Regions from separate parts of the Homo sapiens genome. Here regions 2, 3 and 4 are each linked to region 1. Evidence: fine-mapped expression QTL. A gene starts in region 1. Each other region holds a variant in brackets. All regions are shown on one strand. Distances are from middle to middle.

The links.
Region 2: its variant is fine-mapped to the expression of CAB39L in testis (GTEx, PIP above 0.99).
Region 3: its variant is fine-mapped to the expression of CAB39L in cerebellum (GTEx, PIP 0.92).
Region 4: its variant is fine-mapped to the expression of CAB39L in whole blood (INTERVAL, PIP above 0.99). The same link has a PIP of 0.9 or more in T cells, amygdala, anterior cingulate cortex, blood mononuclear cells, caudate and cerebral cortex.

Annotation. Positions count from the first base shown.
Region 1 is chr13:49,439,937-49,448,045 of GRCh38, forward strand. It overlaps CAB39L (calcium binding protein 39 like), which reads right to left and starts at 4,128. Exons shown (of 11, transcript NM_001079670.3): 1 at 4,050-4,128. SETDB2-PHF11 (SETDB2-PHF11 readthrough) reads left to right here and starts at 4,338. Exons shown (of 21, transcript NR_135324.2): 1 at 4,338-4,921. It overlaps SETDB2 (SET domain bifurcated histone lysine methyltransferase 2), which reads left to right and starts at 4,338. Exons shown (of 14, transcript NM_001160308.3): 1 at 4,338-4,921. RefSeq lists enhancers at 3,506-3,575, 3,945-4,717, 3,956-4,035, 4,718-5,491 and silencers at 4,044-4,524, 4,196-4,245.
Region 2 is chr13:49,409,106-49,417,214 of GRCh38, forward strand. The region is part of intron 3 of CAB39L (calcium binding protein 39 like); the gene reads right to left. Among named protein-coding and RNA genes, the nearest start is that of CAB39L, 31 kb to the right of the region's middle. The variant G/A (reference allele first, on the strand shown) is at 4,718.
Region 3 is chr13:49,288,166-49,296,274 of GRCh38, forward strand. It overlaps CDADC1 (cytidine and dCMP deaminase domain containing 1), which reads left to right. Exons shown (of 10, transcript NM_030911.4): 10 at 3,519-5,320. The coding sequence ends at 3,592. Among named protein-coding and RNA genes, the nearest start is that of CDADC1, 44 kb to the left of the region's middle. The variant C/A (reference allele first, on the strand shown) is at 4,961.
Region 4 is chr13:49,338,971-49,347,079 of GRCh38, forward strand. CAB39L (calcium binding protein 39 like) reads right to left here. Exons shown (of 11, transcript NM_001079670.3): 8 at 5,209-5,268; 9 at 707-772. Among named protein-coding and RNA genes, the nearest start is that of CDADC1, 95 kb to the left of the region's middle. The variant G/T (reference allele first, on the strand shown) is at 5,069.

The DNA.
Region 1 (8,109 bases):
TTTTTGCTTGTTGAATTAACTTCCTTATAGATTCTGGATATTAGACCTTTGTCAGATGCATAGTTTGCAAATATTTTCTCCTATTCTGCAGGTTATCTGTTTGCTCTGTTAATAGTTTCTCTTACTGTGCAGAAGCTCTTTAGTTTAATTAGGTCCTACTTGTCAACTTTTGTTTTTGTTGCAATTGCTTTTGAAGACTTAGTCATAAATTCTTTCCCAAGGCTGATGTCCAGAATGTTTCCTAGATTTTTTCCTAGGATTCTTACTGTTTGAGTTCTTACATTTAAATCTTTAATCCATCTTGAATTGATTTTTGTATGTGGTGTAAGGTAGAAGTCCAGTTTTGTATGTGGTGTAAGGTAGAAGCCCAGTCTTATACACATGGCTAGCCAGTTATCCCAGCACCATTTATTGAATAGGAAGTTCTTTCTCCATTGCTTCCTTTTGTCAATTTTGTTGACCAGATGGCTGTGGGTGTACAGCTTAATTTCTGGGCTCTCTATTCTGCTCCATTGGCCTATATGTCTGTTTTTGTACCAGTACCATGCTTTTTTGGTTACTGTAGCCTCAAAGTATAATTTGAAACAAGCTACACATTCAGTAGCACTGAATGTGTAGCTTGTTTTGGGCAGTATGGCGATTCTAATGATATTGATTCTTCCAATCCATGAGCATGGAGTGTTTTTCCATTTGTTTGTGTCATCAATGATTTCTTTCAGCAGTGTCTTGTAGTTCTTGTAGAGATCTTTCACTTCCTTGGTTAGAGGTATTCCTAGGCAGTGTGTGTGTGTGTGTGTGTGTGTGTGTGTGTGTGTGTGTGTGTATGGCTATCGTAAACAGGACTGCATTCTTGATTTGGCTCTCTGCTCCAACATTATTGGTATAGAAACGCTACTGATTTTTGTACAGAGTTTGTATCCTGAAACTTACTGAAGTTATCAGTTCCAAGAGCCTTTGGTGGAGTCTTTAGGGTTTTCTAGGTATACAATCAGATCATCAGCCAAGAGAGATAGTCTGACTTCTTTTCCTATGTGGATGCCTTTTGTTTCTCTTGCCTGATTGCTCTGGCTAGAACTTCCTACGTATCTCATGTCTGAGCTCTTATTTCTGAATTTATGTGGTTCTTTCAAAGATTTCATCTTTTCCTTAAATTCTCTTAGCTTACTCTGAAATATTTAGATTGTCATTTTCATCTGCTTTGTGGCCACATTTTTGGGGTATGTTTTCATAATCTCGTGCAATGTTTTATGGCTTATTTTGATGATTTTCTTATAATGATTTAGTGTATATATATATATATATATATATTCCCTTTTCCCATATATTTATATAACTATATACTAAAAGGAGGTTCCCGGCTAGGTACAGTGGCTTATGCCTATAATGCTAGCACTTCGGGAAGCCAAAGCAGGAGGATCACTGGAGTCCAGGAGTTTGAGACCAGCCTGGGCAACATAGCAAGATGCCATCTCTCCAAAAAATTAGCCAGGCATGGTGGCACATATCTATAGTCCCAGCTACTCTTGAGGCTGAGGAGGGAGGTTCACTTGAGCCTGGGGGGTCAAGGCTGCAGTAAGCTGTGATCATGCCACTGTATTCCAGCCTGGGCAACATAGCGAGATCCCATCTCTAAAGAAAATAAAAAGGAGGTTCCTATGTTACACTGTATGGACATGCTGGAGTTTAAAAAAATCTATTTCCTAGTGGAATCTGGTTGTTTCCAGTTTTGGCCATTACAAATAAAATCGCTATAAATATTTGCAGAGCAGCCAATATAGGTTTTCATTTCACTTTTCATCAGAGAAGCATACAATCATCAAAGGGGAAATTAAAACCACAATGAGATACCCCATCATACCTCATATAAAGGCTAAATATTTTAACTGATAATGCCAAGTGCTGACAAGGATGAAAAACTACTGGAACTCTCTTATCTTGGTGGTAAATTTCAATCTAGAGTGGGCTTGCCAGATCATGTGATAAGGATATGATTAATTTTATAATAAACTGTCAAATTGTCTTCTAGGTGGCTGTACTATTTGCAGTCTCACCAGCAAGACTAAGGTTTCTCCTTGTTTTGCATCCTTGCCAGGAAATGTATTGTTTGTTTTGACATTCTGAGTAAGAGGTTGTGTAGTATCTCACTGTGGTTTTAATTTGCATTTTTCCAATGACGGTGGTTTTAATTTGCATTTTCCCAATGACTATTCTATACTTCTTTCATTTAACACAAAATGGTAACCACTTTCCTATGTCATTCAACAGCCTATGCCACTACTCTTTGAAAACGTTCCTTTTAAAAGGCTGAAAAATATAATGATGGGATGTGTCATAATTTATAAAACCATTCTTCTACCATTAGATATTTGTTATTTCCAATTTTTCACAAGAACAAAATTACACTGTGATTATAAAGCTTTGATTCTATCTCTATTTCCTTACAAGTTTCTTAGAAAAGGTCAAAAGGTATATGAACTTTTGTTTCTCCATGCATTTTGACAAGCCAACTGGAAGATACAAGTCAAGTGGAAGATACAAGCATGGAATCAAGTAATTAAGAAAAATGATTCTCAGGCCAGGTGCCGTGGCTCACACCTGTAATCCCAGCACTTTGGGAGGTGGAGGCGGGCAGATCATCTAAAGTCAGGAGTTCAAGACCAGCCTGGCCAACATGGTGAAACCCCATCTCTACTAAAAATACAAAAATTAGCTGGGCGTGATGGCCGGTGTCTGTAGTCCCAGCTACTCAGGAGGCTGAGGCAGGAGAATCGCTTGAACCACGGAGGCAGAGTTGCAGTGAGCCGAGATTGCACCATTGCACTCCAGCATAGGCGACAAGAGACTCCATCTCAAAAAAAAAAAAAAAAAAAAAAAAAAAAAAAACATCAATTATTTTGCTGTTTGTTTTGTTTTTTGGTATTCCTGATGCGAGATGTCTTTATCATGTATTGTTGATTAGGTTGTTCATCAGTTAATCTTGAATAACTGAAATCTAAGCTGAAGGCAATAATACATCGGCTTTCTTTTCATGCAAGTCAAACTGCTAAAATCTACCACAAAATATTAGCCTTTCATCAGCTTGGTCTTCAGATCCAATACATTTTCCCCTCAAATGAAAGACAATGCAATGCCATCCACAACAATGCTAAAAAAAAAAAAAAAAAAGGAGGAGGGAAACAAGGTTAAGTCCTGTCTTCTTCCTCCTACCCCAAAAAGAGCTCAGAAATTAAGGTGCTTTCCCTAACAAAGCCTCCTCCTGCTCCATGAAGTGACCAAGCATGTCATGGCAGACCCAGAGATTTATAATCTTCAACATATCGTTATCGGGGAAATCAAGATTTGACAAAATTCTTCCTTCACGCCCCGTTTCTGCAAGACCACCACTTTCTAGCTTAAAATAAAGAAAAAAAAAAGACAGCTGCAGGAATGCTTGGCTGCCCGCTAATGTACAATTTTGCCCAAACGCAGAACTTGACGCCCACTATTACCAAAGGATGGCCTTAGTAAAGTAACCCCCGCGAAGAGCAAACTGTTTAGCAGCCGCTCCCTCGAAAAGGACGGAAGAGGAGGTCTCTTCTGAACCTGAGGATAGTAGAGAGGCACTCCCCTTCCACTACTAGCTTTGCTCCTTTCTCAATCAGGCAGTTCATCAGCTAGCCTCCTTTGTCAAAGGGGGTTGATGGTCAGAATCTTTGCGAGACAAAAATTACTAAAAGAGCTCCCAGGAACCAATGTTAAGGCATCAAAGGCCCCGCCCAGCCCCCACAATGATCAACAAACCAAAACCTGGGATCCCTACTATTACCACCACCACAACCATCACCACCACCACCACCACCATTCCTCGCTCTCTCTAGCCAGGGATGAGACTCAGGCCCAGGAAACCCATCCTTTCCGCAAGTAGGAAGGCGCTGGGTCTCCTCCCTTAGGCCTCTCCTTTACCCCATTGTTCTCTCCGGACCCCTCCACTACGGCCAGGCGCTATGTATGTTTTCAACCCCCAAGAAGCCCAGTCCCAGCCACACACAAGATGGCAGCCTCACACCTACCGGAGGAAACAGCTGCGCCACCACTCCAGTGATGCCGGCCTCTCGACTACGAGTAACTCCATTGGCTCAGCTACAGTGCGCGAGACAAGCCGAGAGCGCTAGCAGTCAATCGGGAGGCGGCGCGCTCGGGCGCCACTGCGGTGCCAGCGGTAAGTGCGCCGAGTCTCTGAGGCGTGAACCAGTGGGGAGTGCGACCAATCAATGGGCTCCTGGCTGGGTGGTGGGACGGCCGGCGTCCGACTCCTCCCATGTAGTGATCGGTTTAGGTAGGTCGGCCTGGTCCCCGGCGGAGGTTACGCCTTCCCTCATCCCCGGTAGAGGCAGGGCGGGACTGTTGTGGTTGAGATGAAGGCTAGTAAATGGTGAAGTACTTCCCGGCCAGAGGGCACCTGCGCTCGGGAGGTTTGGGCGGCTTGGCGTCGGAGGAGAGCCCCACCCGCGGAGGAACCCAGCCTTGCCAACGGAGCTGGCGGAGCTCACTCCTCAGGTCAGGCGGGCGGCGTAGAAAACGCAGCGGAGCCAGGTGAAACCAAGGCACCGCCGTGGCTGGCCCCCGACAGTTCCTCTAGCCGGGAGGTTGGAGGAGCTGAAAACGCCGCGGAGCCCTCGGCCGCCCGAGCAGGGGCTGGACCCCAGCCCTTGCAGCCTCCCTTCTCCTGGCACCCAAGTGCAGTCCTGGCTGCAGAAGGGGCCGCGGGCGCACTGAGTTTCCAACCTCCATTTCAGCCTGTCTGTCTCAGGGTGCAGCCTTAATGAGAGGTGATTCCTAAGCTGCTGGGAACCTGAGGTTGTCAAAGGGGCGGCAGGAAATGGACAGCAGTATAAAACCCAGAAGCAGAACTTGAAGGTTAAACCACTAGCCCATTTCACAGGTAAGATTACACGAGCCCTTAAATACAGCAAGTTCAGTCATTCATCCAAGATCATGGAGTTCAGATTAGATAGTAACACTTCTGACTCGCTATCAGCCACAGCCCAATAAGTAATTAAGTAAGGAAAGATATGTAATTAACTGTGCTCTTTGGCATGTGGAAACCTGCAGTGAGCTCTGTAAATACTAACACATGAGGCCAAGGAGAGGAGTAAATTTGAAGAGGTCAAATGGAGTAACCAAAGCATAGGCTCTGAAACCATGCTGCCTGGTTCCTTATTTCGTGTCTGCCACTTACGGTATGGCATTCCTTAGCTTCCTCATCAGCAAACGAGCTGCTAATTTAACCCACATGACTGTTAGGGGGATTAAATAAGAACACGTGAAGTAGTTAGAAGCGTGACTAACCCGTGGTTCTTAAGCGTGACTTAACCCGTGGTTCTGTCGTTACAATTAAAACGTAAGGAGCCGAGAGGAAATGGTAAACGTGTTTTTAAAGCCTGTTTTAGAAACGAAAAGGAACCATACATTGAAGCAAAGCAGACTGGCTTAATTATTTTTCTACCAAAATGAAAAAGTGAGAAGGGGAAAAAAGTTTTTTAAGCCCATTTACTCTCTGAAATATTAACACCAGTTGTCTCTGGATGATGGGATGGTGTTTAAATTTTCTCCTTTATGCTTTATTGTATTTTGCAGATTTTCTCCAGGAAACATGTTTTACTTGTGCACGTTCAGTTTTCAAATTTTCAGGTGTGAACGCTGGTGAGAGCTGCTTAAAAACAAAGCTATGGGCCGGGCGCGGTGGCTCACACCTGTAATCCCCACACTTTGGGAGGCTGAGGCGGGCGGATCACCTGAGGTCAGGAGTTCAAGACCAGCCTGGCCAACGTGGTGAAACCCCGTCTCCACTAAAAACACAAAAATTAGCCGGGCGTGTGGTGGCGGGCCCCTGTAATCCCAGCTTCTCGGGAGGCTGAGGCAGGAGAATCGCTTGAACCCGGGAGGCAGAGGCTGCAGTGAGCCGAGATCACGCCACTGCACCCTTCTCACTGCACTGGTGACAGAGCGAGACTCCGTCTCAAAAAAAAAAAAAAAATCTATGGCCGTGCGCGGTGGGTGGCTCACATCTATAATCCCAGCACTTTGGCAGATCACTTGAGCCCAGAGTTCAAGACCAACCTGGGCAACATAGACCTCATGTCTAAAAAAAAATAAAACTATTACTGAGTGTGCTTAGGTGGAAGTATAAATTGGTAGAACCTTTCTGGAAGAGAGTTTGACAATATGCTATAAAAAGCTTTAAAATGAATTCCTTTTTGAACATTTATATATACTTAATTTTTAAAAATTAAGTACACTTTTACATTCTTTTACAGAATTGGTACCTTGTAGATAAAGAGCACAATCCAGATTTTGACCTTGAGTTTTTTCTTGCGTGTCAAGGTTATACTTATAAAAACAGTTGAATAGCTTCCCGTATTTTTCCTTCTTGAAAGTTCGTATATGATAAAAATTCTCCGTTCTTTGAAAGTTTTGTACAAGGAATGTTCCCTCACTCCTCTCCCTCCCTACTCCCGCTGGAGACTTTGGTACAGAGCTTTCAAGTGTTTTTTAATACTTACACCTTTTAATACTGTTACATATTCTATATAGGTGAATATATACATTTGTAATTTTTTAGTGGAAAAATACTATACTACATCATTCTGTAGCTTTATTTCTTGACATTGTTTTTGCAGCCTGTACATGTTATTTATAGCTCATTATGTTATTTATGGATCATTTCTTTTACCTGCTGCATAGTGTTCCAGTGTATGACTGAATTGATCTGTTAATATAAAACATTTCTTTGTCTCTTTTATTGGTCTTGTTGTTAAATCCTATTTTGTTTGATGTGTGCTGTATAGCACATTTTATTGCCATTCTCTGAGAACATTAGGTTTCCAGTTTTTCACCATACAACAATGCTGCAAGGAAAATCTTTGTGTTTTCTTGTGCACATGTGCTATTTCTCTAGGATATATACCTAAAAGTGGAATTGCTTGGTTTTAAGTTGTGAGCATTTTTAGTTTTAATAGGTCATGCTAAATTTGCCTCCAAAAATACCTCTACTAATTTACATGTTCCACAGGTAGTTTATGAGAGTTAAGTTTCTCTACAGTTTAGACTAACATGAGATATTATCTTCTTCATTTTTGCCTAGTGATGGCTGCAAATTATATTTTTAATTTTAATTTTCATTCTGTGATCTAAGATTGAAGTGTCTATTATGTTTGTTAACCTATAATTTATATGCATTTCTATAGTTTTTTAAAAACATGTTTAAGTTCTTTATGTGTCCTCGATACTGTATTTTTAGAAGTCTCTTTGGTGTGTATGGTTAATTATGCCTCCTTTTTGTTGCTATTGTTAAAATATGTTAAAAACATTTTCTCTTAGCTTCTTGCTTGGCTTTTGACTTTTTGTTAACTTATTTGTTCTACAGATGGATTTTCCTCTGCCAATCTTTAGGCCTCTTTTTATCTTACTGAATTTCTCTAAGACTTCCAGTACAGTATTGAATAAAAACAGTGATAGCAACTGTCTTCATCTTGTGCCTAATAAAAATTCTCCGAATGTTTCATCATTGAGTATGATGTTTGCTGTCATTGAGTAGGATGTTTTGGTAGATAGCCTCGATCAGAATAAGAAAGTTCTCTTTTTTCCTAATTTGCTAAGGGGCCCCCCCACCTTCCATGGAATAATTTTATATTGAATTGTTTTGTTTTTCTGCATGAAGTGATAGTTTTCCTCCCTTTGCCTGTTAATATAAGCATTCACATTGATAAACTTTTCATGTTAAACTTTTTAGGTATTCTTGGGATAAACTATTTTGGTAATACATTCTTATTCTACTGCTGGATACCTTTATTCAGTATTTTTGTGTCTAAGACCCAGTAGTGATTTGGGCCTTGAGTTTTTTTCTTGCATGTCAAGGTTATACTTATCTCATAAAAAAAAGTTGAGTAGCTTCCCATATTTTTCCTGCTTCAGAACAGTTTGTATATGATAAAAATTAGCCGTTCTCTGAAAGTTTTGTACAATTCATCTGTAAAAGTTTATGGACCTAGTGTACTAGCAGTGAAAAAAATTTCATATCTCATAAAAAAAAATTGAGTAACTGCTTAAGAAAAAGTTGAGTAGCTTCCC
Region 2 (8,109 bases), 31 kb before region 1:
GCTGGTAGTCAGCGAGACAAAAGACAGGCAGGGACCATCAGAGCATACAGCAGTACAGCAAAGCATGAGGCAGGCAGAGGACTCCAGGCCAGCCCTTCCGGGAAACTGGTAACACTGGCTCTGATTCAGGCAGCATGCATAACCCAACTCTGCCATGCCATGCCTAGAACACTGTATGGGAGATTGGAGACTTAGTAGTACCTGACACAACAATAGGATTAGGATTATAAGAGGTTAGGAATGAGGTAATAGAGAAATGAACGTATATTACTGTTTCCAAGTGTTGGATATAAAGACTAGAAGGACAGCTTGAAGGGCTTAATAAAAGAGGTTTTTGTTTGCTTTAAAAAAAAAAAAAAAACCTTTCAACTCTTGGTAGATTGAGTGGGACAGACAGGAGGAAGGTAGAAGATGAGAAAGGGATAATTAATGGGGCATGATCTTTGAGCCCACAATGGGAGGGATCAAGAACATAAGTGGAATAATATATATTTTTCTAAAATGAGAAGGAGGAGAAAGCATTAGTAGAGACTGCCCAGGGAAAGAGGAATGAAGTTAGGAAGCACAGGTTTACTTCAATTTTCTCAGAAAAGCAGGACTCACCATCATCTGAAGAGAACAAAGGTAGAGTAAAAGAATATGTGTTTGAGCAGAGTGAAAATTGGTCTTATCAGAAAACCCACATGTGGCTGGGCACAGTGGCTCATGCCTGTAATCCTAAGCAGTCTGGCAGGAAGTAGGAGGATCCCTTGAGTCCAGGAGTTCAAGACCAGCCTGGGCAACATAGGGAGACCCTCTCTCTATTTAAAAAAAAAAAAAAAATCCACATAAATACAGTAAGAAGAAAAGCTAAAAGGTGTGACTCATGTACACCAAATCCTAAGTTTAACAGTTAAAGTTCCGCTTATATCCACACAATTCCACTTATATCTAAACAATATAACAACGCTAAGTACATGCTATGCTTTTCCACCAACTGCCCAATTTAAGGAATAACAAAGGATGAGGTTAAGAAACAGATCTTGGAGCCCCAAGATTCGATATACAGCTAGTATCATAACAACAAAATGGGCTTAGTGCCATAACCACAGGCAGATGGTGATACTAATAATTCTCATATTTCCCTGTCCTTCTTTGCTGGATCCATGTTCTGTTTTCTCCACAACTGGTACGCTTATGAAAAGTTCTTGCTCAAGTCAGTTAAGAACATAAGATACCTTTTAGTAAAAGAACAATTCCCACCCTGTTGAGAACTGATGTACATTCTCTTTTTATGAGGTGTGTCATACTCCAATTTTCCAAGTTTTTACAAATTTTCACTTTTCTACAAATTATTGAAACCAGAACTATACAAAAATTTTATGTTGGAGAATCATATTATTACTGTTATAAATCTTTAAAAGTACAACTTGTAAGCTGGTGCTCTGAAGCCAAGAAGAAAAACAGGATCTAAAGAGAACACAGAAAGAAAGGACAAAGAAAGAAGCAGGCTGAGTGAAGGGACAGAAAACCTTGAGTTATAAATAACTTGGTTTAAAATGTCAAGAGAAACTAGTCTCAAAGTATCTCTTTCTACAGAGTTATAATGCTTTTTAATAATGAAAGTACTTCACATGACAATTTTCAAAGTCAAAGCCATTTATGGCAAACAAACACATAGCATTTGCAATATAACATATTCAGGTAATTTACTGAATGGAAAAATCTCTATGGAATTCATCCAGTAATTATAGTGGGTTCCATTTATAAAACATATTTTACCACAAATCTGAAGACTTATAAAACATGATCTAGTATAGGAGAAATGATTATAATCCTTTAATAACTATTAATCACAGAACAATTAGTTTTAATAACTATAACCACAGAATGGCATCTTGTTTTACAAATAAAATACAAACCAGTGCACTGTTCTAGCTGTACTCATTCTAAACATGTCTTTTTATCTTTTAATTTTAAATTAAATGTCCATTAAAAAAGTATTTTTTATTTTCTATGCTTCTCTATTGTTTTAAAATCCCAGCCCGGTGTGGTGACTTGTGTCTGTAATCCCAGCACTTTGGGAGGCTGAGGCTGGTGGATTGCTTGAGTCCAGGAGTTTGAGACCAGCCTGGGCAACATAGTGAGACCTCGTCTCTATCAAAAATACAAAATATCAGCTGGGCATGGCGGTGTGTGCCTGTAATCCCAGCTACTTAGGAGGCTGAGGTAGGAGAATCTCTTGAGCCTTGGAGGCGGAGGTTGCAGTGAGCCGAGATAACGTCACTGCACTCCAGCCTGGGCAACAGAGAGAGACTCTCCTGAGAAAAAAAAAAAAAAAAAGAAAATCCCCCACCTCCCTCTTCTCTAATTCCCCTCCCCAAGATTAAGCACTATTCAAAGTGCTATCCTTCCAGACCCTTTTTCCAGGCATACGTAGATGTATGTATTTGTTTGAATACACACCAAGATAATTTTTTAAATGAGATAATACTATACACACTGCATTATAATTTATTTTATTTCTTTATAGTAGATCTTGGATTTCTCTACATTTGGTAGCTCTATCTCATTCTTTTAAAAGTGTTGCATGGTTGCACAGTAGATGCACTTGGCACTGAAAACTCGACTTAAGTATATCCCGAGGATGACCCTGAATGTGGTTCACAGTTTTGAGCTAAGGAATCTGGGATAAGCTGGAGACCCATTCCTTATCTATGAGGAACATTCGAGCCCCCAGCCTGGCTCATGGAACACAGGGCATAGAAGGGATCGAGGTCCTTTGTTTTGGGTTAAATGAAGGTTACCAGGTGGAGGTTGTTAGGGAGAAGGCATTAAGTGAAAATGCTATGTAAACTGCATGACTGTTGCAAGCAGTTGGTTCTCTTGCCTAGCCCACTGCCACTGGACTCTCTTCCCTGTATGTAAACTCCCCCCAAAACCCTCTGTCTCCTTTGCTGGCTCTGGGTCTCCTTGGCCTCTAGAACCTGGTGCCATCCCCACTGGAGTTGATAGGGGTTCAGCACAAATTGGTGTTCCTTAATATTGCTGTACTACAGTTTGTTTAACCACTTCTCTATATATAGACATACAGGTAGGTGAGGGTGTTGTTTTTTGTTTTTGTTTTGCTATCTTATAATCTATTTTAAAATTAGTCACTGATAACATAAACAAATCAGAATTTAAAAACACAATGTTAATTCTCCTTGGAAAAAAAGCCATAAAGTGATTATTTGTATTATTCTAATAATACAGATAAATAAAATTTACCTTTGCCATTTAAAAAAAAAAAAATGGCAAAAACCACAATTACTTTTGCACCAACCTAATAATAAGCATTTTTTTCATTTTAAATATTTTGGTTTCTCACAGTTGATAAACATGCAAAATCTGTCATTGTTTTCAATACAATGTTATCAATAATTCTGAAAATTTACACATGCAACTCATTTTCAAATTAACTGCACATTATGGCCTTTGGATATGCATTGGATACCCAATGTGTTTGAGGGCTAAATCTCACTAATTCTCCACTATTACTCAATTACGTTAAGCCAGCAGTCCCCAACCTTTTTCGCACCAGAGGATGGTTTTGTGGAAAGCCATTCTTCCACGGACCTGGAGGTTGGGATGCAGGGGATGGTTTCGGGATGAAACTGTTGCATCTCAGGTCATCAGGCATTAGAGTCTCATAAGGAGCCTGCAACCTAGATCCCTCACATGCACAGTTCACAGAAGGGTTTGTGCTGTCTATGAGACTCTAATTCTGCCACTGATCTAACAGGAGGCGGAATTCAGATGGTAATGCTTGCCAGCCAGCCACTCACCTCCTACTGTGCTGCCCGGTTCCTAACAGGCCATGGACAGGTACAGGTCTGCAGCCCAGGGGTAAGGGACCCCTGCATTAAGCAACTCTTGATTGGTGTTTTCAGAAGCCTAGTGTGATACTAGGTTCTCTAAGGAATTCAAAAGAGGTCTGTGATAAAAGATCTGTCTTCAAGGAGCTTGTACAACTTTTGTGAAAACAAAACAAAACAAAACAAAACAAAAAACCTTAGCTATCTATATAAAATCATTACACCTGAATACAAAGTTTTGAAGAAAATACAAAAGGAAGAAGAAATATGCAAGGGACCAAGGTATATTTTACCGTATTTTATCATAAGGTAAAATATAGAGATTACCTAAGTGAGGAAAGAAAAGGAGTAAGTGAAAGAAATGGGACTTTTTTAATTGTACAAAAATCATAGACTTTATAAATTCTTCTAAAACAACATATTTCCTGAGGATTTGTTAGCAAATACCTAAGAAATGGGAATTTAGATGCACTTTGAAAAAGTACTAGGATTTGGATATAGTGAGATAGAAAAAGGAACAATATCCCAGCATAGGAAAATTTTTTAGCAAAAATGCAAAGACTGGAATGAAAGTAGAAAAGGGACGGAAAGAGAGGTAGGGAAATGGGAGAAAAGAAAATTGTGGTTAAAAGGGAAATACATAGGGAAGTTTTTGAGGTGGAGTGGTGGACAGGGAGGGCACATATATTTGTTGTCAAAGGAAGAAGCCTGGAGAGAGGTAAAAAGCTATTCCCTGTACACTTGGCCCAACACGTTTTGGTCCCATTTCAACCAATACTCACCCTTTTAACTGGCTTCTACAAGAAATCCAGATACACCAAGTATTTCCTGGCTTTTGTAAGTTTTTATATGTGAGGTCACAGTGAAGTGTCACAATACAC[G/A]ACATAGCATTTCTCCAGAGTTCCTATTCCTTTCCTGCTGGATTTTCCCTGTGCCTTTCAAGTTTTTCTTCCCTTTTTTAAACAGAAAATTTAAACTCTATCTCTTCTAGTTCCAAATATGTATTCCTAACTCATCCTAAACTGCAACAAAACAGAGACTCTTCCAACGGCAAGGACATACCTCCTTAAAAGGCAATTTAACAACCGTCTCCAAATACTTGAACAAACCCTTTGTGGAGTCAACATTCATCACAAATGAATTATCCATGCTTTTCTTCCAAACAAATTCTGCATTTTCTATACAATTCTTAATGCTTACTAAAAGATTAACAATTTCTCCATTGGGATAGAGTCAAAACTGCAGATGAAAGATTTGCCTTAGTAAAAAGAAGCATAATGTTATAAAAAATGAATCATTCTTTTCAAGAAATAGAGGCAGCAACAGTTCTTAAAATTAAATAAGAACTAGAAGAATGTAGTGAGACAGAATCTTGTATACTGCTGAGTAGAACAAAATCCCCAGGAACCTTTCTAGAAAACAATTTACCAGAATATTCATGCTTTTTAACATATCAATTCTACTAACAAAAAGCTATCCTGAGAAAATAGAGATGGCTAGATGGTAAATGATGTTATTGCAATGTTATTTACAAAGGAAAGCCAAGAGTATCTACAAAAGGGAAACAGTTGAATAAATTATGTTATGCTACCATCTTAGAATATTATAGACATATAAAAATATTTTAAGTGCCATATATAGTCACATAATAAAATATGTTAAATAAAAATCAAGAAATAGGACTAATACTTCAAATTCATTTTAAAATCATAAATATTATATATATACAACTATGTGTGTGTGTACAGAGACATGCATAATTTTATATAGATAAAAGACTAGAAGGAAATACAACAAAATTTTAACAGTAATTTTCTCTGGGTAGTAAGACTACAGATTACTTTTTTCTTCTTTATAATTTTCTGTAACAATCAAATTTTCTACAATAGCATTTATAAGTGGAAAATTTGTTTTAAAAAAGGAGCAGCTTTGTTTCGCCATTAAGTAGGCATTAAAAAAAAATGTAGGCTTGCTGGGCACGGTGGCTCATGCCTTTAATCCCAGCACTTTGGGAGGCCGAGGTGGAGGTGGATCACTTGAGGTCAGGCGTTCGAGACCAGCCTGGCCAACATGGTGAAATCCCATCTCTACTAAAAATACAAAAAGTTAGCTGGGTGTGGTGGTGCGTGCCTGTGGTCCTAGCTACTTGGGACGCTGAGGTGGGAGAATCACTGAAGCCTGGGAAGTCGAGGCTGCAGTTAGCCAAGATCATGCCACTGCACTCCAGTCTGGGCAACACAGTGAGACCCTGTCTCTAGAAATTTTAAAAATAAAAATAAAAAATAAAAAATGTGGCCAGGCGCGGTGGCTCACACCTGTAATCCCAGCACTTTGGGAAGCTGAGGTGGGTGGATCATGAGGTCAAGAGTTCAAGACCAGCCTGGCCAATATGGTGAAACCCCTTCTCTACTAAAAAAAAAAATACAAAAATTAGCGGGGTGTGGTGGTACACACCTGTAATCCCAGCTACTCAGGAGGCTGAGGCAGGAGAATCACTTGAATCTGGGAGGCAGAGGCTGCAGTGAGCCAAGATCGTGCCACTGCACTCCAGTCTGGGTGACAGAGCAAGACTCTGTCTTGGAAAAAAAAAAAATTAAATTAAAATAAAATTAAAAATGTGGGCTCTGATATATTTATGATCTATACACTCTACACTATGGTACTGGTGAAGCCTATAGACTTCTGAGTTTCCATTATAACCCCATGTTGAGTAAAGTTTTAAGGGCACAGGAAGGGTGCTGATTTGGACCTCATACAGAACAACTTTAGTGACACTAGAATGTGAGCTTTGTGAGGGCAGGATGTTGGTGTGTTTTGCTCACTGCTTCATCCTCAGCACCTAAAATAATGCTTTGTACACGGTAGGCACTCAACAAATATTTGTTAATAAATCTCCAACTAATTTTTTAAAAATTATAAATTACTTTCCTGTTTTCTACTATGCCTTTTGTCTCTAATCATAAGGAAAAACAGAGAGGAAGTGCTGACTTTTAGATGATGAGTGGGGAAGCTCATAAAGACAGAACTGGAGTTTTTTGGTTTTCATTGTGTTTTTTGTCCTACAAAGCAAATAATGCTTTCTCTCAGAAAGAAGCTCACTCAGGCTTACTCTGACATGTTCAACTTTACTACTGACTTTCCTAACAAGCAAAGAGCATTTATGCTGAACCACATCTTCTGGAAAGTCTTGCTTTTACCCCAACTGTCTCACTGTTCATGGATGGGGAGGTGCAACTAAACTGGGTTGTAGTGAGGACAGAACATGTCACTCTGTTACTGGCTTTAGAAAAAGTAGAGCCAGTGGCCTATGATTCCAAATAGAAGAACTATTGCCCTTCTACAGAATGTGCTTTCAAACCTTGCCCCTGACCCACAACAAAAAATACGGCTAACACAAAAACCCCAGTAACAAGCTAACATGTGTGCAAGTAAAGCAAAAGTTTCACAAAACAACTGCTCTTACCACATCTGATGCAGTCTGATATTGTCTATGCTATTCAATTTAATATTTTTAAACTGTGGATTACAGCTCAGCAAACTGATTTTATGACCTACTAGTGAGTGGAAAGCCACAGTTTGAACAATGCTGACAAGGAGACAGTGCTTTCTTCCCCTGGACCTGTAGGCACTATGTAACGGAGTATCTAGTCATGAAGAAAACTGGCTCTGGAGCCTCCTACCTGACTTCACGTACTGCCTCTGCAACTTACAAGGTGCCTGGACAAATTACTTAACCTCTCTGGGCCCCTATTTCCTCATATGTAAAATGGAAATAACATACCTATGTCATAGGATTATTATAAGGATTAAATGAATTAATGTATAAAGTACTCAGAATAGTGCCTGGTACACAGTGAGCACTGTATAAATATTAGCTAAGATTATTATTATTAATGTGCCTACTGAGGAGGAAAAACACACACTGAGAATTAGGTAAGATGTAAGAGAAGGTCAAGAGGTCCTACGTATCCTGATGCTCTTGTTAGAAGCAGAAAAAGAAAACTGATAATCTCAAAATCTTCTACATAGAACCAAGCAAATGTTAGTCTATAGTAATTTGGTGTTTCTCTTTGATGCCTAAATAGATATTTGAATTAGATCTCACAGTTTATGTTGGCATCTAAAATCTCACTGGCTCTTATCTGAACCCAATCCACTCCTGATTAAGATAATGGTTGGATAGTAATCCATTCCTGATTAGTGTTGAATAGTTAATTTTGAGATAGTGGGCACTTTATATTCCAATTTTTAAAATAGCCTTATTGAGATATCA
Region 3 (8,109 bases), 150 kb before region 1:
GTTTGCTGGCAATGTTTTATTTATTGACCCAGATGATGGTTACATATGTTTGCTTTGTGACAGTTCAACTGAACAGTTAAGTTTATGTTTATGCATTTTTGAACAAGTGTTTGATCTCAGTAAGCAATACCCCATTTCCTTTTTAATTATATGATAGTTTTACTGATATGTAATTCATCTATCATAAATTTGCTTCTTTAGTAGATTCACGAAGTTGTACAGGCATCACTACAACATAATTTCAGAACATTTTCATTATCTGAGAAAGAAGTCTCATGCCTATTTGCAGTCACTCCCCATTCTTCACTCCCCCTAGCCCTAGGCAACCACTCTTTCAGTTTTTATGGATTAGTCTATTCTGGCCATTTCATATAAATGGAATCATACAGTATGTAATTCCTTTCCAATTTTTGATTCAGTTGAGAAATAGACACCAGAATCAACAGATGAAAGTTACAACACCAGCTTTGTTGTTAGACTGGGGCTTGACTTTTGGGTAAATCAGTCTGTCTAACTCAGAGGGGGACTTGCTGCTGGATACTCTCTCAGTGCCAGTAGCAGGGACAAACAGAGAAGGAAGGCAGGCAGTGTGACTGACAACTCTCAAGTGCCCTTCCACTCCATGCAAATGGAACCCAGGTAACCCATAACAAGCATTCTTTTTAAAGAGTCATGGAGCTTTCAAGAAAATAAGAGAAATATTCTCCTAAGAACAAAATAGAGATAAGAAGGCATTTTGCTAGAATCTGAGGAGCAATAGTAAGCGAACACAATAGCCAGAGCTATCCTGGGGACAAATGTCCATATAAGCTGGGATCTGAGATCAGGTCTGGGTCTGCTGCAAGGTGAGTGAACTGAACTTAGTTCACCCAATCAACACATGAAAAGATGATTAAACTTATTAGTAGTCAGAGAAATGCAAATTAACATTGCACGGAAGTAGCTTTTTTTTTGCTTTTTTTTTTTTTTTTTTTTTTTTTTATGACGGAGTCTCACTCTGTCGCCCAGTCTGGAGTGCAGTGGCGTGATCCTGGCTCACTGCAACCTCCACCTCCCAGGTTCAAGAGATTCTCCTGCCTTAGCCTCCCAAGTATCTGGGATTACAGGCATGCACCACCATGCCCAGCTAATTTTGTATTTTTAGTAGAGACGAGGTTTCACCACGTTGGCTAGGCTAGTCTCAAACTCTGGACCTCAGGTGATCTGCCCGCCTTGGCCTCCGAAAGTGCTGGGATTACCGGCATGAGCCACCACGCCTGGCCTGAAATAGCATTTTTTATAAGCGTATGCCCTAGAGAAACTCTTGCATATTGTATAAGAGTCAGAGAGACAAAGAATTTGTTGCTATATTGTTTTTAAAAGCAAAAACTGGAAATAACACAAATGTTTGTTTTGGGTGGTTAGATAAAAATATTATGGTGTATTCCCACAATGGACTACCATATAGCAGTGAAAACAAATGAACTAGAGCTACATTCTTCAACATGGATGAATCTTAGAAATATAAATGTTGAATTTAACAAAGCAAACTACAGAATTATGATACCATTTCTGTATAAAGTTCAAAAAGACATACCATATATTGGTTAAATGTGGTAGGCCAGGCATGGTGCTCACACCTATAATCCCAGCATATTGGGAGACTGAAGCGGGCCAATTGCTTGAGCCCAGGAGTTCAAGACCAGCCTGGGCATCACAGCAAAACTCCATCTCTACAAAAGATACAAAAAATTAGTTTGGCATGGTGGCCTGTGCCTGTAGTCCCAGCTACCGCAGAGGCTGACATAGGAGGATCACCTGAGCCCAGGAGGTTGAGGATGCAGTGAGCTGAGATCACACCACTGCACTCCAGCCTGGGTAACAGACTGAGACAGACCCTGTCTCAAAAAATATATAAATAAATAAATAAAATATACTTTAATATATAGTATATACAGTAAAGTTATTGTTAAGAAGCAATCGATTGATAAACACAAAAATCAAGATAGGAGTTGCCTCTGAGTGGGGTGAAAGGGGATGGGACGAGAGAGGGAGCGCACGGGAATTGATAATGTTCTAGTTGTTGGATTCGGCAGTATGTTTTGTTTTTTTTCCATCTCCCCCCAACACACATAATGTAGTTTTATTCAGTTTTAAACAAACTGTAACTCTTTTGGGGCAGTAAGTTCATGAGTGTTCATTTTATTGTTAGGCTTTAGAACTCCCATCTGTATTATGTATGTATTATTATATATTACATAATACATTATATATAGAGAGAGAGAATGTTTCAAATATTACATGATATGATGAGAACAAGAAAGAGAGAGGGGTGGCTTTCCAGATCTACCTCTGGAAGGCAAGTCTGAGCCCTGGCCCAGGTGTCCTTAGGACAAGGAAACAGCAGGGCAGAACATACAGGCTCAGGGCAGGAAATCCCTCAAAAGATGGGAAGAAAGGGGCAGAAAGAAGCTTTTGCAGGTGATAGATATGTTCATTGTCTTGACTGTGGGGATAGTTTCATGAATGTGTACTTATGTCAGAAATCATGAAACTGGACTAAGCAAAATGGCTCCTTCCTGTGATCCCATCATTTTGGGAGGCTGAGGTGGGAGGATTGCTTGAGGCCAAGAGTTCAAGACCAGTTTGGGTAACAGACTGAGAACCCCATCTCTACAAATATTACAAATCAAAAAGTAAATTAAAAAAATTCATCAAGCTATACACTTTATGTTTAGTTTATTGCATACTTTAAACATGTATCATTTATTGTACAAATAAAGCTATTAAACACAAAAGCCAGGAAGAGGTTGAAGCCATACTCTTTTCCCAGCCTGCCCAGTCAGATAAGTCCGTCTTCCTTCCAGTCCCCAGATTCTCCCTACCCCACACACAGTCCCCTTCTCCCTTAGGAGGTACATTTTATTTCTTCCAGTCTAGTAATAGGACGTCCCCCCACCAAAAACATAAAACAAAAAGTTTTATGAATTACTTGCCGTACACTGTTGAGTGAATTCAGTTTTTGGTTTTTTTTTTTTTTGAGACAGGGTCTCGCTGTGTCACCCAGGCTGGAATGCAGTGGCACAGTCATGGCTCACTGCAGACTTGGCCTCTCTGGGCTCAAACAGTCCTCCCACCTCAGGCTCCTGAGTAGCTGGGATTACAGGTGTGCGCCACAACACCTGTTTAAAAAAAAAAAATTTTTTTTGTAGAGATGGGGTCTCCCTATGCTGCCCAAGCTGGTCTTGAACTCTTGGGATCAAGTTATCCTCCCTCCTCAGCCTCCAAAAGTGTTAAAATTACAGACGTGAGCCATTGCACCCGGCCAATGTGAATCCAGTTTTTAAAAGCCAGATTCTGTATTGCCTGAGAGTAAGTTATCTAGATTGGATTCTCTACAATTGAGAATTTGAAGATAAAATAAAGTGAAAGTTCCTTTAACTTAAGCATTGTTTTGCTCTTACAACATGTAAGGCTGAAACAAGTGCCCATGGGTTTGAAATGAAGCTGTCCTGACCTAGCGTTATTCTCAATGCTAGATGGTGTGTTGAGACCTGTCCCACAGAAGGAAGAGCAGCACCAGGACAAGAAGCTGCGCCTCGGAATCCACTAAGAAGGCCTGTCTACACTGCAGGGGAACCTCAAGAACTTTTCATTGCACTTCTAAAATTCAGCCTTGTTCATTCAGAAAATAAGGATGGATTTTGTGAATAATTGAAAAGATTTTTTAAGGAAGCTAATTTATTTCTAGGATACAAATGGTGTTAATAAGAATATTTGTCTTTTAGATTTATGTGTGGGTTTTCCATAATGTAGTAGTGTGTTATTTTATTACACGAAATGAGGGAGCAATAACTTCAACCAATGTAATCACCAACAGGGACTGATTTCTATTTATCTTGACTTTATATTAGCCAATTTGAAAGGGTCTGCTTCACAAGAGGTCATGCCTCTGCAGGGAATCACACACCTTTTGAGAAATATTAATTCTTTTGAATTACAAGAGTGACAGTTAGTAAACTGCTCCAGGGAAATAAGTGTCATCTTTTAAGAGTCAGTGTATAGCAAACCAAAAGATCACATTTATACCCAAAGCTTTCTAGTAATCAGAATTTACTTAATTAGAATTGACTCATAAAAATAAAGTTAGTGGACTTTGTCTCCATTTTTAAAGTATATTTTGTAAATGTTAATTCTGTGGTCCTGTTTATCACAGACTTTGGGTAGCAATAGGAAGAGAGTGTTATTCTGAGACAGTGTCGCTGCTTGATATCACTGACTCTTGAAATCACTAACAGTGAACCTCAAATTTGGTTATGATGTTAACAGAGAAGAAATATTTGAGTCTGGAATATTGAAACTAGCTTTCCTAGAATTCCATTAATAAATGCTGCTCCCCCATATAGTCTTCCCTTCTGTATAATTAACATAGGTTGTCTCATGGCTTTGATCTTCAAAAGGAAGAGCCTTTTAAAAACATTTGCCAACCTCAAGAATAAATACTGAAAGTCTTGAAAGTATGGTCATTTCAGCTATTCCAGATTGCTGTCTGTGATTTCTCACATTTTTATTTGCTGAGAAACATTCAGAAAATTATTCCAAAAATGAAGGTACATTTTCTGTTCTCTCCTAGGTTAGAGAGGGGTGGCCTGGGGTGCTTCATGAGAAATGTCTTCCTGGATCTGCGGTGGTCAGGTTTGCCTCTGCTTTTGTTCCCTGCCTTTCCGCCACATCACACGGCCTCACTGGGCTTCCTACCAGTTTCTCAGAATTACACGCACGACCATCCAAACATTGGCTCCATGCCAGGGCTGTGACTGCAGCCTGTGTAGGACCATGGGGAGTTCAGAGTCATCATACAAGGCAGCCAAGAACTGCCATAAACACTACACAGATGGAGGGCATGGGATAGGACAGGAGAGGAGGTGATGTACACTTAGAGGTAACTAAGGCTAGTTTGAAAACCGTGAATTAAGATATT[C/A]TTATCAGTATAAAAACACTGAGATTGCTTACCTCCCAAATTGCTTTATTGTATTAACTCTCATGCTTCAGCTCTTGGATTTGTTGTTTCTAACTAACATGTCATGTACACCAAACATTTTATAAATCAATCAGTAAATATTTTGTAAGACCCAAAATCCTGGCATATTGCCAGGTCTGTGGATTTGCCTGTTGGGTGTTGGGATGGGATATCAGAGGAAGAAGCATACAAGTGGGAAAAACTGTGATTAGAAAGGGAAAAATAGGCATTTCCACAGTACTATTAAGAGAGGCATGATAATGCCATTTTTTTTCTTCTGTACAACTGGTCAGATTTCAATAAATAATCATTGATGGTTTACTGTGTAGCCTCAGAAGGTGAAGTCTATGAGGGCAGGGAGGTGTGTGTGTGTGTGTGTGTGTACTTTTTAACTGCTGAACCCCAGTGTCTAGAACAGTACCTGGCACACAGTAGGCATTCCATAAATATTTGTTTATTGATTGAATGACTGCTAAACACTGCTAGACTGCGGGGATGAGATGTGTGAGAAATGCCTCCTGATCTTAAGACACTCACAGTCAAGTGGAAGATACAAGCATGGAATCAAGTAATTAAGAAAAATGATTCTCAGGCCAGGTGCCGTGGCTCACACCTGTAATCCCAGCACTTTGGGAGGCTGAGTGGGGTAGATCACTTGAGGTCAGGAGTTCAAGACCAGCCTGGTCAACATGGTAAAACCCCGTCTCTACTAAAAATACAAAAAAAAAAAAAAAAAAAAAAAGCTAGACATGGTATTGCATGCCTGTAATCCCAGCTATTTGGGAGACTGAAGCAGGAGAATCACATGAACCCAGGAGGCAGAGGTTGCAGTGAGCTGAGATCATGCCACTGCACTCCAGCCTGGACAACAGAGCGAGACTTAGTCTAAAAGAAAAGAAAAGAAAAAAATGTCTCTGGACCAGCAGACTATTTGTTAGAAGTGCATATTCTTAGGGTGCTCCCTAGGCTTACTGAATTAGAACCTCTCAGGGTGGGCCCAGCAAGCTGGGGTTTCACGACCTTGCGGGTGATTCTGGTGACCTTTAAGGCTGAGAACTGCCATTGTGGATGTAACTGTAGGAACAGTGGGGGCACACGAGGATTTACCAGCACTCTGGGGAGTCATGGAAAGGACCCTGTAGAGGCAGAGGTGATGAGGTGGGGCCTGAGGGGATCCAGGGGTTTGCCAGGTAAACAGTGGGAATGAGACAAATTTCTGGGAAAAAGTGATGGAGACAGACTGCTGAGCCACCCCAGGAGCCCGCCTGGGTTTGGAGAAGCTCTGTGGGGCACTTTTGACCCAGATCTATAAATTCCCAGTCTTCATCCCTTAGCCTGAGAAATCAGAACTTACACTTAAACAAAAAATACAATGTCTTTCTAAATTTCAAAGAATGGGAGGATGATGGTAAGTTCATAATTTGTAAAAAAAAAAAAAAAAAAAAAAAATAGCTCTGCCATTTGTTTACTGCCTAAGTGGCCACAGAATATGCTACTGTGAGGGGAGCTAAGTGTAAGCATTTGCCTGGCTTCCTTCATCCCAGTCATGCAGAACATACGCAGGTGTGTGTATTTTCATTGTATTGCTGCTGAAGCTTTTTCTTTCCTTTTTCAAGACAGGGTCTCACTCTGTTGCCCAGGCTGGAGTGCAGTGGTGCCTTCATAGCTCACTGCAGCCTTGACTGTTTTCTGTGCTCAAGCGGTCCTCCCCACCTCAGCCTCCCAAGTAGCTGGGACTACAGGCACGTGCCACCACGCCTGGCTAGTTTATTTTTTATTTATTTTTTGTAGAGACAGGGGTCTTGCTATGTTGCCCAGGCTGGTCTTGAACTCCTGGCCTCAAGCAATCCTCCTGCCTCTGCCTCCCAAAGTGCTGTGATTACAGGCATGAGCCACCGCGCCTGGCCAAGTTAGCTTTATTTCTGGGTCAATGAATGGTACCAACACTCTATAAACATGAACTCTATCTTTAGTGACACTATGATACATAAATGAGCTTATCGCCCCTGAATGTCTATATCTAAACCCACGTAACACTTGGGAAGGAGAAAGAAAGAAGTGAGCCCATCTTGGGACAGGAGCTCCTTTGGTGAGTGTAGCACAGAGTGATTTGTTAGGGAAAGCACATGTCTTTCCAGAAGGACATGAGCCAGAACTTTCCTGGAATACTTCCCACCACCCCATGATTCTCAGAAATTGGGGTCCAGGCCAGGATGAACGAGAAAGAAACCACAGTTCATCCCAGTGCTGACACCCGTACCCAGAGAGGCCCGGGCCGGGGATGTATCCCAAGGACAAAAGGTGGAGGGAGGAGGCTGGGGGGAGTTCACTTCCTGTGGAGTGAATGGAAACAGCCTGGCTCTGCCTAATGTGCATGAGGGGCTGGGGGTGGCTTGAACAGCTTGAAGTACCTTGTGTAGTGTGTGCGCACATTCACAATGTTAGAAAAAAACAAAAACAAGAGCTAAGCGAGAAGTCTGAAATACTGTGGTGTATGATGCTGTTGAGTTGCAAGAAATGGAAGCTCGTGAGCCGGGAGGCTTCTGTGTGGCAGATCGTAACTCCTGACCAACTTTGTTTCACCCATGATGATAACCAGCAGAGGTTCTCCAGGTTGTTTATTTTTGAACATGGTACAATTCATTAACAAATATTTGCCAGGGCTTAGCTTACCATGAGCCAGGCACTGTGAGGAGTGCAGTTACAGTGGTGAGGAAAACCAGACACAAACCCTGCCCTCGTGGAGCTTATCGTCTAGTTGGGGAGATGGACATACATCAGTATTCATGAAAATGAATGAAAGGTACACAGAAAAGAACTGGCCTCCCAACAAATACAGGGACATGTTTTTTCAGTTCTTCCACTTCACAGAGATCTGGTACTATTATAATGGCACCATGGGCTGCACTTAGTGGACCCAGAAAGTTCTACTGGTTTGGGTTTTTTAAAAGATATCCTACACGCTTAAGCAGGGAATCTTTTGGAAACCTCTGGAAGAACAATCATATTAAACATGCAAATAGGGCTGGGCACGGTGGCGCACACCAGTAATCCCAGCACTTTGGGAGGCTGAGGCAGGTGGATCATGAGGTCAGGGGTTTGAGACCAGC
Region 4 (8,109 bases), 100 kb before region 1:
TTCCCATAAAACAGAAGCCCCATAACATTTCAACTATATAAACATAATTTGATAGTAAAAAGCTATTTTATACTCAAAAATACAGATATTAAGAATTTATCAATTGCTGTGCTTAAAACTTAGAGGGAAGGTTTAATTTTTGCATTTTACATGTCTTTTTTTTTTTTTTTTTTTTTTGAGATGGAGTTCCGCTCTTGTTGCCCAGGCTGGAGTACATTGGCACGATCTTGGCTCACTGCAACCTCCACCTCCCAGGTTCAAGCGATTCTCCTGCCTCAGCCTCCCGAGTAGCTGAGATTACAGGAGCCCACCACCACGCCCAGCTAATTTTTGTATTTTTAGTAGAGATGGGGTTTTGCCATGTTGGCCAGGCTGGTCTCGAACTCCTGACCTCAGGTGATCCGCCCACTTCGGCCTCCCAAAGTGCTGGGATTACAGGCGTAAGCCAAGATGCCTGGCCTCAGCAGAAATATTCTAAATTTTACTTATCATGTACTTATATTGTTACTTCCAAAAGCAGGACAGGACACTTACATTATTTTGCTATAAAATACAGTCATAACATAAAATATAGTAAATACTTCTCAAGTTATTTAAAAAAAGGATATTTTAATTTTTCTGTGTTTACTCATATACTAATAGACCCGTCATTTGCTAATGAGATATAAACTTACGGGGACACTGACTTAAAGAAATTTGATATTACCTTTAAAGACTGTCTCTTAGTAACATAATTCTCAGACTGAAGCAATTTCTCATAGTCTTCAAAAATCTAATGAAAAGAAAATACACATTAGAGTGTAAAAGCAGCAGTGGATTCTCCGTATTAGGCTGGCTTGCTTTCTTTTTCAGGAGCAAATTCCCAACTTCTGGCCATTTTACCATCCTTCTTTACATGTGAAGACACTGGGGGACAGGGAGGTCAAGAATTACAAGAGACATCCTTCCCTATTTTATTTTAGTTCTGCAAATTAGATAAAAACTGAGTAATTTTGAGTCCTTCCAATAAATCATTTTGAATAAAACTTCTAGTAAAAGTTGCAAGAGAACTCATTTTATGCCATTTTAAAGAAATCTTTATGTAAGTAGCCTTGCTGGTGGCTATGGGTCCACAATTTGGGAAAATATTAAATACACTTAAGGCTTCACTTGGCAAGCCATAAAGAATCAGACTGTTCAATTCACTGCATAAACAGATAAAGAACGAGGCAACCTTTGTTGCATGACGGCCCAACTAGTCTCTCTGGAGCACTTCACTCTCACCGGAAGCTGGGGACACTGGTGCACGAAGTCTTCTTTCCTAACATGGTCACCAACCATGGCCTAGCCCTTCAGTTTAACACAGAGTGCTGGCATCTGGGGAGGTTCAGCATTCACTTCCATCAGGTGTGGGCACACAGCTCATAGAGCACTGAAGTGGGAGGAATGAGCGCAGCCAGGACGGAGGACAAGAGATCAGGAACTGAAGAGGGTGACAAACTCCTAGCCCTCGGAGAGTCAAGTGCGAGGGGAGAGTGTGTGCCGCTGTGTAATGAGGGCAAGCTGTGCATGCTGACAATCACCGATAGAGAATAAAGTGAAAAGTAAAAATACAAAGGTGTAGCTCACATTAAAATCACAGTAATTATACTCTTTAATATGAATGACTTATTTATTCTATCCTGAAACACAAGGAGAATTTTGTGGATCATTAAATGCATCAGACAAGCCTTGTGATAAATTTGAATAGTAAATATAAAATGCAAATACATGTATGTGGTATGACCTACTCCCGAGTCCACCAGCTTTATTACTTTAGAGTCATGCATCATGTGCTCCAGTTTCATGGCATACTGCTAAAGAAATATCAGCTGAAAGAGTCTGAAAGGTTTGAAGGGGCATGAGTTCTCAGAGCTCGCATTCAGGCCAATGCAGGAGCTTCAGCAGCTGTGAAATTACTAAATTACACAAGAAGTGATATATGGATGTAAAAACAAAATTAGGTAAAAAAGGAGTCAAAGAGAATGAATTTATTAGTCTCTCAAACTGTCATGTATTATACCTGAACACAAAGCATTACTGCACAACACATTTACCTCATTCATTCTATAGGAAAAAATAGTAATTAGTTGATATTGTAGATTTATCCACGTTATCTTAGCCTTTTAAAAATTTTATTTCTTATAAATGTGACATCTAATGAATCTTTCCTTAACATTCCATCTAGCATATATAGTTACTGAACAACCAAACTATATATTAACAGTTCATTTCCTAAATTCAAAAATAGACAATTTTCTTTTTCTTTTTCTTTTTTTTTTTGAGACCAAGTCTCGCTCTGATGCCAAGGCTGGAGTGCTGTGATGTGATCTCAGCTCACTGCAACCTCCGCCTCCCGGGTTCAAGCAATTCTCTGCCTCAGCCTCCCGAGTAGATGGGATTACAGGCACCCGCCACCACATCTGGCTAATTTTTGTATTTTTATTAGAGACAAGGTTTCACCATTTTGGCCAGGTTGGTCTTGAACTCCTGACCTCGTGATCCACCCGCCTCTTTCAGTCTATACATTTTGGGATGCCTCTAGCAATAAAAATTATTCTCCTTGCAGTAGAATGAGGTTATCAGAGGCTGGGGAAGGTAGGAGGGAGGGAAGATGAAGAGAGACTGGTTAACAGGTATAAAAATACAGTTAGAAGAAATAAGTTCTAGTATTCAACAGCACAGTAGGGTGACTATAGTTAATAATTTACTGTATATTTCAAAATAGCTAGAAGAGAAGATTTGGAAAGTTCCCAACACAAAGAAACGATAAATATTTGAGGTGACGGGCATCCTGATTACCCTGATGTGATCGTTACAAATTGTATGCATATATCAACATATCTGATGTACCCCATAAACATGTATAATTATTTTGTATCAATTTAAAAAATCATCCTCCCCTCACATTTTACACTTAAAACAAATACTCTAGTTGATTCTGTGGCTATTTCCTTTATAACATGAGGACATAAAAATCACTTTTGATTTTATAATTATATTGCTAATTCCTAATCTTAAATTGAAGGACAACTGGCAAAAATAAAATTTATTTTATTTATAATTAAAAGAGAAGTAGTTAAATATTTGTGATTTGAATGTGTGAAGATATACTATTGATAGGCAGAGTAGGCCACACCTTCCCAGTATTCAGGAGTATGTTGCAACCTTTGTCTAGGATATAAATGATTCAGAGACTCCTTGAGGACTATTATTAATATTTGTTTGCTACCACTGGTCCATATGCCTATTATGTGCCCAACTATACTGCATACTGTTGGGAAGGCATAAAGTCATAGTAATCATCAAAAATGTACTTCTTTTTGTAAGCACATGTAATTTAATTTAATACTAAAGATTTCAATCAATAAAGATACTTTACCTTAATTTACTTATTACTACCATAAATATCATATACACATGAAATTGTTTTTTGCTTTTAATAGATGAAGACAAAAAAAATCCATTCATCATACCATATATATAAATATTTAGAACTTCTTGGTTTAGGCATCAATAATACAAATAGTTAAGTGCTGCTTTAAGACAGCAGATTACATTCTTGCTGTTAGGTGTCAGGCACTAGACTGGGTGATGGAGACAGAGTAGTAACATTAACTAACACATGTAAAAATGCCAAAAATCCCAGTAAAAAATAACTGTGGCTGTTGCTAGGATGAGGATCAGAGACTCCCCTTCCCTAAGTCCTAGTTTAGATGCATGCTGTCCAACATAGGGCCATACGCGGCTACTGAGCACTTGAAATGTGGCTAGTCCAAACTGAGATGTGCTGTAAGTGTAAAATACACATCAGATCTCAAACACTCAGCATGAAAAAAGGATGTAAAATAGCTTGATCATTTTTCACTTCATCTTAGCCAAAAGACCGAGAAGCGATGATCATTTTCCATATTGATTGTACATTAAAATAACATTTTTCGTATGTTGGGTTAAATAGATGTATATTATTAAAATTAATTTCACCTGTTTCTTTTTACCTCTTTGTGTGGCTAACTAGAAAATTTTAAGTTACATAGTGGCTCTCATTTCTGGCTGGCATTATATTTCTACTGGACAGCACTGAGGTAGAGCATCTGAACCAACACTAGAACAAAACATACAAAGTTTTCCTTCTAGGTTTGAGCTATATTTTACTGTATAATGCTGCTTCTATTGCTTACACATTTAGTAAAAGTATCGTTGCTTTTGGATGGATCTGTCACCACCAAATGTATGACACTGCATTAGGCATTAGGAAAACAAGTAACAACGATTAAAAACTAATACTGAGTGCTTACTCTGGTACTGTGCTGAAAACTTTAAATCCCGTCAAACTCCCTCAACAACCCTATGATTCAGGTATTATTACTATGTTCATTTTGCAGTGGGTGTAGTAACTTGCCCAGGGCCACTAAGGAGGCAGGTCTTGAAGCCAAGCAAGCACGAAGACTCTAAAGTCCATACTGTGCTCTTAACCCTGTGTCCTGCAGATAAGATTCCTGCCTCTTAGGGGGTGCAAGGGCCAGCCAGAAAGATACAGACACACCATAATAATACAAGGTGAAAAATAAGAGGGAGCCAGAGAGAGAGAGAAGAAAGAGAGAAGGGGAGAGGAGGGAGAGGAGGGAGAAGAGAGAGGAGAGAGGAGAGGGGAGAGAGACAGAGACAGAAAGAGAGAGAGAAAGAGAAAGGATGCATGTTTTGGGAGGGGTAGGATTAGGGAAAGCTTTCTAAAGAGTCATATTTCAACCAAATCTCAAAAGGATGAGTTGGATTCACTGTCAGGGAAGGGAGTTGCAAGATAAAAAATATTTCTGGTATTTTTACTACTAAGTAAGACTAATTATCAACCAAGTAAAATGATGTACTTTAGTGAGGGTGGGGTTCTCTTCCTTTTGGAGTTACCTACTGCCTCCTTTGATTTGCAACATCAAAGCAAGCAGGTGCTAGTCATTTATTGAGCTTCAGAGCACAACACGAAGAGATGTGAAAAAGGTGAAAGCCCTGACCTCCTGCCATCTCAATTTTCCATAAAGTTTCCTGATGACCT[G/T]GTTTCCAGGTAGACAAATCAGGAGTATGGTTGAATGCGACTGATTTCTCTTGTGGATAATTCACAGGGGCAATTGCTCATAGATCTAAAAGGGAGGGAGAGAGAAAGTGGGAAAGTCTTTAAAAATGATTTCTACTTACAGTGTCGTAATTTTGTTCTAAGAAGTCTGCTACCAACACTTTATGTCTGGTTAGTAAATCCTAGAAAAAGAAAAACCAAGTGAAACAAAACTGTTATAGCTATTAATATTACAAATGTGTCTTTTCTAAGGTTTAAGAACATATAAAAGTTGCAGAAGAACATTTTCATTTGCGCCACAAAATTATTTCCATTCCTAGCTTAGCCTAAGATGTGAAATACAAGTTTGTTTCATGTTAGAAAAGAAAAACTCTGGTGTTAAACCTAGTGTTTCAAATTCATATTGTTAGATTTATGATAGAAATAATTTAACTGGTGAAACAAATGGAACTTGAGATGAGTTAATTTTTTTTTTTTTTTTTTGAGATGGAGTCTCACTATGTCACCCAGGCTGGAGTGCAGTGGCATGATCTCAGCTCACTGCAAGCTCTGCCTCCCGGGTTCAAGCGATTCTCCTGCCTCAGCCTCCTGAGTAGCTGGGACTACAGGCGCCCGCCACCACATCCGGCTTTTTGTTTTTGTATTTTTAGCAGAGACGGGTTTCACCGTGTTAGCCAGGATGGTCTCGATCTCCTGACTTTGTGATCCACCTGCCTCGGCCTCCCAAAGTGCCTTAACCACTTTTAAAATGGGCGCCTCGGATACTGGAAGCGTAGGACTGACATTTAGCAGTGTCAAACCAGTATTGTTCCTGCTCTTGGGTTAATGGGATGTAAGGTGTTGTGCAAGTTACTAAGTAGCACAATCCATCCTTTCAAAATTGAAGATGAGTAGCCCTATCTTATGGCAGATATAAACTTGCAGAAAACTGAACAAAGCATGAAGAAACATTTGACTGTCTTCAACTCATACCTAAATTATATCCTTAACTCACTTTAATGTTGTAGGAAAACAAGCCTCACTTAATCCCTTTTATATGCTTAGAGGCTAAATGCCCTGTCTAGGTGCTATGAAAAATTTAATTAAAAACATAACAAGAATTTTAAAGTTTTCCAAAATAAATTCTTTTAATACATATTTAATTAAAATTTCCTAAAAGCATATAGAAGGTACACAACATAACTTCACAAAGAAAAGGCAGATAACAACCATAATAAAACCCACTTATTTCTACTTTAATTTTTTAAAAAGTAAAATATTTAAAGCATTGTGTACTATAATTTTCAAATTCAAAAATAATAAGAGTGGCTCTTAATTCCCTATTGCTATCACACAACTTGATCAACCACTGGGCCTATCAGTGGAAACATGGTGTTTTTCCCCCCCAGTGGAGCAGAGCATTCATTACCACTCTGGAACTGAAGTTCTAAAATGGAAAACCATTTACAGGGGTTCCGTTCCCACCCCGTCAAAGGTCTTGATTCAAACTAGTTCCTGCATCAGGGGACCCTTGAAAGAGTAAGGTAGTTCCACAAGATCCTTTGAGGTCCCTACTCTTTTTTTTAAAGGATAATATTGGTGTCATGCTTTCAAGCATCCCTCCCCTAACATCATAGAAACCCCATGAGCAGTAATAGAAATTTTCTGAGCTGAACCAGGGCAGAGGGAGCCCCCTCTATGGGCTGCAGCAGACACTGTGGATTGCTGCACCCATGGGAGTTCTCTACCTGCTTCAACTATCGTCAGCCTTGAAAGTGAGGACTGGGTTCCCCACACTGCAGGCCCAGCGCACACAGCCCCAGTGGCAACAAAAAGAGCAGGTTGCAGATCAGTGCTGCCTTGAAAGGTTGTGTCATACATTAGTGTTACCCCAAAGAAAAAGGGATCAGGAGGGAGTTAGGTTAAAACCAACACTTTCAAATTCCAAGGCAAGAAAACCTTGAAACAGCTTGAAAATCCAGTATTAGGAAACCATAATAGGGTGGGGTAGAATTCCTCCAGCATATATATATATGCTAGATATATATATATATATATATGCTAGATATATATATATATATATATATATCATGGATACAGCCAATAAACAATGCACACATTCCCTCTCTCACGCCCACATTTCCACTCCAGTGTGTAATGGGATTGATACATGGATATACCCTCAAATTTATGTACATAATAAATGTATATACAAACCACATATACATACACACAGGCTTATGTACACATAATACATAGACAAATATAATTGCTGCATTATAGATCACATAACTGAGTGAAAAAAAAAAAAAGAAACCACAAAAAAAACAGCTAGGATCCTACCCAAGAAGGAAAAGACAGAAAATTGTGAAGGAAAATAAAGTTCAAACTCCAAAGAATTTAGAATTTAAAAACCTTAATTCAAATAGTGTACTCTTTCATCCTACCTCCTAACAATTCTGTTTTGAGAGGCCTAAGTTTTGCATAGTATATTATGCTGAAAAATCTGATATCTATATTTTTAATGAATACTGCTTGAGAGAAACTTGGGGTAGAGTGAGAGAGACACTTAATTGCAGGGACATAAAAGGCTGAGGAGCCAGCGACAGCTGCCGTTTAGAGGGCTGACTGTGCTGGGGAGTGTACCGAGCACTTTGCAAATACGGTTTCTGATCTTCACAAGTCCGTGAAAAAGGGATGATTTTCTTCATTTCAGATGTGGAAAATAAAACTCAAAGGTTAACTAAATTGCTCAAGGACATCCAGCTTATCAGGTGGCAGAGAAAGACAGAATTCAAACCACTTCTATTATGGGAATTTTTAGAGGGAGGGATGAAAGAGATTATGGTTGTATGGAATCCTTTTTGGGAAAAGACTTTTGGTAGACAAATCTATGCCAAAATAAAAAACTAACAATGTTACAATATTAATAACTAAACTGAGCAACAGTCCCTTTAAGAGCTCAAAACCAAAAAGATTAGGAGGTTATAAAAAACCCAAAACCAATGCCAAAATCAAGTCAATCATCCAACCAAACAAAACCC